Linked DNA regions of Homo sapiens: region 1 is linked to region 2. The links come from fine-mapping of genetic effects on gene expression. A gene starts in region 2. The other region holds a variant in brackets. All regions are shown on one strand. Distances are from middle to middle. Region 1 has its middle 22 kb from the start of TNFSF9. Region 2 holds the start of TNFSF9 (TNF superfamily member 9).

Region 1 (2,905 bases), 21 kb before region 2:
ACAGAGCAAGACTCCGTCTCAAAAAAAAAAAAAAAAAGATTATCCTTTTATTTCAGAGGGAACTACATTAAAAGATTTAATTTATGATATGACAATATCAGGCTCTGGATCAGGTCTACCATTGCTTGTTCAGAGAACAATTGTGAAAACTATTGTTGTTACAGGAACACTGGCAAAGGTGAATGTGAAGAATTTTGGCGAGGAAAGCGGCGGGGAGAAGTTGTCATTAAGATATTCCCTTCTTGCCTGGGCACGGTGGCTCACGCCTGTAATCCTGACACTTTGGGAGGCTGAGGTGGGTGGATCACTTGAGGTCAGGAGTTCGAGACCAGCGTGGCCAACAGGGTGAAACCCCATCTCTACTAAAAATACAAAAATTAGCTGGGCGTGGTGATGCAAGCCTGTAATCCCAGCTGCTTGGGAGGCTGAGACAGGAGAATTGCTTGAACCCGGGAGATGGAGGTTACAGTGAGCTGGGATGACACCACTGCACTCCAGCCTGGGCAACAGAGGGAGACTCCGTCTCAACAACAACAACAACAAAAAAAGGTATTGTCTTCTAAGAAAAGGAACGCTTTTACACTGTTGGTGGGAATGTAAATTAGCTCCACTATTGTGGAAAACAGTGTGAGGATTCCTCAAAGACCTAAACACAGAACTACCATTCAGTCCAGCAATCCCACTGCTAGGTGTAAACCCAAAGGAATATAAATCATTCTATTATAAAGACACGTGCATGCATATATTCATTGCAGCATATTCTCAATAGCAAAGACGTGGAACCAACCTAAATGGCCATCAATGGTAGAATGGATAAAGAAAATATGGTACATATACACCACGGAATACTATGCACCATAAAAAAGAACGAGATCATGTCATTTGCAGGAACATGGATGGAGCTAGAGGCCATTATCCCTAGAAAACTAACGCAGGATCAGAAAAACAAATACTGCATGTTCTCACTTATAAGTGGGAGCTAAATGATAAGAACACATGGACACATAGAGGAGAACAACACACACTGGGGCCTATCAGACGGTGGAGGGTTGGGGGAGGAAGAGGATCAGGAAAAATAGCTAATGGATACTAGGCTTAGCACCTGGGTGAAATAACCTGTAAAACAAACCCGCATGACACAGGTTTACCCATATAACAAACCTGCACATGTACCCCTGAACTTAAAGTTAGTTTTTGTTTTTTTTGTTTTGTTTTGTTTTGTTTTTTGAGACGGGGTCTTGCTCTGTCACCCAGGCTGGAGTGCAGTGGCGTGATCTTGGCTCACTGCAACCTCCGCATCCCAGGTTCCAGCGATTCTCCTGCCTCAGCCTCCTGGGTAGCTGGAATTACAGGCACACACCACCACGCCCAGCTAATTTTTGTATTCTTAGTAGAGACAAGGGTTTCACCATGTTGGCCAGGCTGGTCTTGAACTCCTGACCTCAGGTGATCCACCCACCTCCGCCTCCCAAAGTGCTGGGATTACAGGCATGAGCCACCGCGCCCGGCCCCAGGTTAAATTTTTTAAAATTTATATTTATGGAATCATGGAGAACTTCTCATCTAGAGAAGAACGTTTGTGACTCTATGAGGCAGAGATTTATCAAATTGGCAGGTTAC[G/A]TCATGAAAACCTCCTGGGAGAGCCAGGGCCAGCCACACCCGGCCACAGACTAATTTTTCCACCAGGGAAAGTTTGTCCAGCTTATTGTGAAAATTCGTGTGGTATTGATGGCTGTGGTGGGCTGTCTGGCTGCTGCCATCACATGGCTGCTGCAGGGAGGGCCCAGGGAGGAGGCTGACAGCTCCCCGGCCACGCAGCCCACAGCCCTCTGGAGCCCACGCCCTGCTGGAGCAGCGCGGTCGGGCAGAGAGGGGCCCGGATGTGGAGCTGGGGCCGTGCTTTGGGGGCGGGGGCAGGAAGAGGGAGCAGCGCCCTCTTTGGGGACTAGCCAGCCGCGCAGCCACTGCACCCACCCCGCAGAGGGTTCAGGGTTCCTAGGCATCAGGAGGAGGCTCTGTGCAGGGCTTGCCAGCCGTGTTCTTGGGGTCCACCCCGCATCAGAGCGACCACCAAGCCTGCCACTCCCCGTGGCCAGGCTGGGGCCAGGATCAGCTCCCCACAGGCTGCCCCTGAGTGCCGGGGCAACAGGGGCAGTTCGTGGTGATATTGCCCCTGCCCTGGGCGCCAGCCCAGGCCCGGCAAGGATCAGGAATCCCCGCCCCAGCTTGCAAGGGGGAGCACCTGAAGCTGCATCCTGGGCCTCTGCAGCCGCCCAAGTTGTGGCCGCAGATTCAAGCCTCCCTGTGCTCTTGGGGGGCCAGGGAGGCCCCCCTGCCCTTGCAGGCTCCAAAGCACCTGCTCCCACTGCCTGGTTTCTCCCTGCTCTCAGCGCCTGCTCTGATCTTGGAGCAAAGTCAGGGTCCAACCTGGGGCCATGAACGGCAGCAGGAGGCAGACTGATTCCTGGCAGAAGGGAGCAAGTCCTCGCTAAGACCCCACCTTCAGGCCAGGGAGGGCCTGAAGGCTGAGGGCCACCAGACCTGTGGACCAGAGTGGGGACTTGTGATGCCTTTTCCAGGCCCATGCATGGCTGTTAATGGACCAGTCGGCACACACTGCATCCCCTCTGAGGTCCATAAAAGCCCCAGGCTCAGCCAGAGCAGGGCAGAGAAAAAGAGAGACGTCCAGATGACCAGCTGCAGAGAGAAGCCACTCTCTGTGCTAATAGCTGGAGATGACCTGACGACCAGCTGCAGAAAGGAGCTACACTCTCTGCTGAAAGCTGCAGTGAGGATGGGATGACCTGCTGGGCAGAGAGAAGCCACCCTCTCCAAGGCCTCCTCTCTGCTGAGACCTGCAGCCATCAGGAGGACCAGAGAGGAACTACCCTCTCTGGGGTCTCCT
Region 2 (2,861 bases):
ACACACACAGACACACACGAACACAAATATCCAAACACACCCACATGAACACAAACACCCACACGAACGAACAAACACAAACACCCACACGAACACACACCCACACGAACACAAACACACCCACGAACACACACACATACGCACCCCCACACGAACACACACACACGAACACAAACACCCACACAAACACGAACACACACACACACACACACACACACACACACGAAGCTGGTGGCTCAACCTGCCCCAAGGACAGATCTCCAAGAATTCAGGAGGGAAAAGCGATCCCTCTTCTTTCCAGCCCCCTTGGGGGTATTCCCCTGGGGGTCTTGAAAGGGAGAGGGGTACCTCAGATGTTGGGGATAAGGCTCTTTGGGAGTTAGCAAAGGAACTGGGGGTCTCCTTGGCGGTCCCAGATAAAGAGGAAGTGCCCCCCTCGGATCGGGGATGGAAAAAAGGTTCCCCCCAGAGATGCAGAGCTTGTGGGGGTGCGGGGTAAAAAGAGGTGCCCTCAATGTCCTAAGTCCTACATAGAGAAAGGAAGCCGTCGAGGGTTGGAGAACCGCGGAGGGTCCCCCGTCCAGGGTGCAGATGGGGTGCCTTGGGAATGCGGAATGAAGAGGGGTGCCCCCACCCACTGCCACATGGAGGGAAGCCAGCCTTTCTCCGACCCGGGGTGCAGAAGACGTATCCCTGAGGGGTTGAGGACTGTGGGGGTCTCCTCCTCCTGGCCTGGGGTGCTGATGGGGTCTCGGGATGCGGAATGAAAGGGGTGCCCTCCCGTGCAAGACGGAGAAGGAGAGCCCTTGGAGGTCCAAAAAGAACTTGTGGGGGTCTCCTCTCCCCCTCCCGGGATACAGATAGGGTCTCGTAGCGGGCGCAGGATGAAAGGGGTGCCCCCCGGACTAGAAGAAGGAGACCCTTGGGGGGTCCAAAAAGAACTGTTGGGCGGTCTCCTCCCCGCCCCCGGCCTGGGGTACAGATGAGGTGTCGTAGGGGTGCGGGATGAAAGGTGTGCCCCCCCGGCCTCGGTGCTAGATGGAGAATGGGAGCCCCGGTGGGTCTCCTCTCCCCGGCCGGGAGTGTAGAACAGGTGTCCCTGGGGGTGCGGGAGGGAGAAGGGAGTCCCAGAGGGGCGGTAGGGGTCTCCCGCGAGACCAGCTACCGAGGGTCGGGGCACGTCTCACCTGCCGCAGGTCCAAGAGGCCGGCGGGATCGTCGGGCGAAAGCTCGGGACCCTCGCGGAGTCTCGGGCTGGCCGCGGAGCCGGGCGAGGCGCGAGCCCCGGACACGGCCCAGGGGCAGGCGAGGAAGACGGCGCAGGCGGCAGCGAGCAGCAGCAGCAGCAGCAGCCCCGCGACCAGGGCCCAAGGCAGTACGCGGCAGGCGCGAGCGCGGGGCGCGGGAGGCCACGGGGCTTCGGGGTCCAGTGAAGCGTCAGAGGCGTATTCCATGACGAGAGACTGCGGGAAGACACAGCGCGCCGCTTTTTATAGCTGCTTGGCTACAAAAGGAGGCCACGCCCCTCCGCCCGCGGCCACGCCCCTCCGCCCGCGGCCACGCCCCTTCCCAGCCCAGAGCCTTTCCCCTCGTCCCCGTGACTCTGCGGAATTTTCTCCACTCGGATCTCTCTCCGCTTTTCGCTCTCCTTTCCGTTTCCGGCCTTCCAAGCTCGGCTCCAGGTTCCTTTCTCCCTGCTGTCTCTCCATCGCCCTGGTTCTCCCTCTCTGCCGCTCTTTCCCGGTATCTCTGTGGGTCTCTTGCTGACTCAGTCTCCTTTGCTCTCTGTGTCTCCCCGTTAACGTCTTTCTCTGTCTCTGTTGATTGCCTCTGCAGTGGGTGGAAAGAGATCTTTCTCTCTCTCTGCCAATTTATGTCTATGCGTGCCTCTGTGCCTGTATTATCTCTGTCTCTGTCTCTCTCTATCTCTGTCTCTAATTCTCTCTCCCTGTCTCTGGCTCTGTTATCTCTGTCTCTGTATCTCTCTGTCTAACTCTGTCTCTGGCTGTTATCTCTGTCTCTCATTGTATCTCTCTCTGACTCTCTCTCCCTGTCTCTGGCTCTGTTATCACTGGCTCTGTCTCTCTATCTGTCTTCTCTCTCTCTGCCTCTGACTCTCTCTCCCCATGTCTGGCTCTGTTATCTCTGTCTATATATCTCTCTCTGTCTCTGACTCTCTCTCCCTATCTCTGGCTCCGTTATCTCTGTCTCTGTATCTGTCTCTGGCTCTGTTATCTCTGTCTCTCTATCTCTGTCTCTGACTGTCTCTGGCTCTGTTATCTTTCTCCCTCTCTCTGCTTCTGTTATCTCTGTCGCTGTCTCTGGCTGTGACTCTCTCTCTCTGTCTCTGTGTCTGGCTCTCTCTGTCTCTGTCTCTGACTCTGTCTCTGGCTCTGTTATCTCTGTCTCTATGTCTCTGTCTCTGTGTCTCTCTCCCTGTCTCTGGCTCTTTTATCTATGTCTGTCTGTCTCTTTCTCTCTGTCTCTGACTCTCCCTATCTCTGGCTCTGTTATCTCTGTGTCTGTCTCTCTGTCTCTGACACTCTCTCCCTGTCTCTGGCTCTGCTATCTCTGTCTCTGTATCTCTCTTTGTCTCTGCCTCTCCCTGTCTCTGGCTCTTTTATCTATGTCTGTCTTGTGTCTCTTTCTCTCTGTCTCTGACTCTCCCTATCTCTGGCTCTGTTATCTCTGTGTCTGTCTCTGTCTCTGACACTCTCTCCCTGTCTCTGGCTCTGTTATCTCTGTCTCTGTCTCTCTGTCTCTGGCTCTGTTATCTCTGTCTCTGTATCTCTCTTTGTCTCTGCCTCTCCCTGTCTCTGGCTCTTTTATCTGTGTCAGTCTGTGTGTTTCTTTCTCTCTGT

What was found. PIP is the estimated chance that this variant, and not a neighbour inherited with it, causes the effect.
Region 1: its variant is fine-mapped to the expression of TNFSF9 in whole blood (INTERVAL, PIP above 0.99).

Annotation. Positions count from the first base shown.
Region 1 is chr19:6,551,091-6,553,995 of GRCh38, reverse strand. It overlaps the pseudogene TGFBR1P1. Among named protein-coding and RNA genes, the nearest start is that of TNFSF9, 22 kb to the right of the region's middle. RefSeq lists an enhancer at 2,030-2,099. The variant G/A (reference allele first, on the strand shown) is at 1,621.
Region 2 is chr19:6,529,630-6,532,490 of GRCh38, reverse strand. TNFSF9 (TNF superfamily member 9) reads right to left here and starts at 1,465. Exons shown (of 3, transcript NM_003811.4): 1 at 1,188-1,465. The coding sequence starts at 1,454. RefSeq lists enhancers at 1-86, 688-787 and silencers at 1,198-1,267, 1,408-1,637.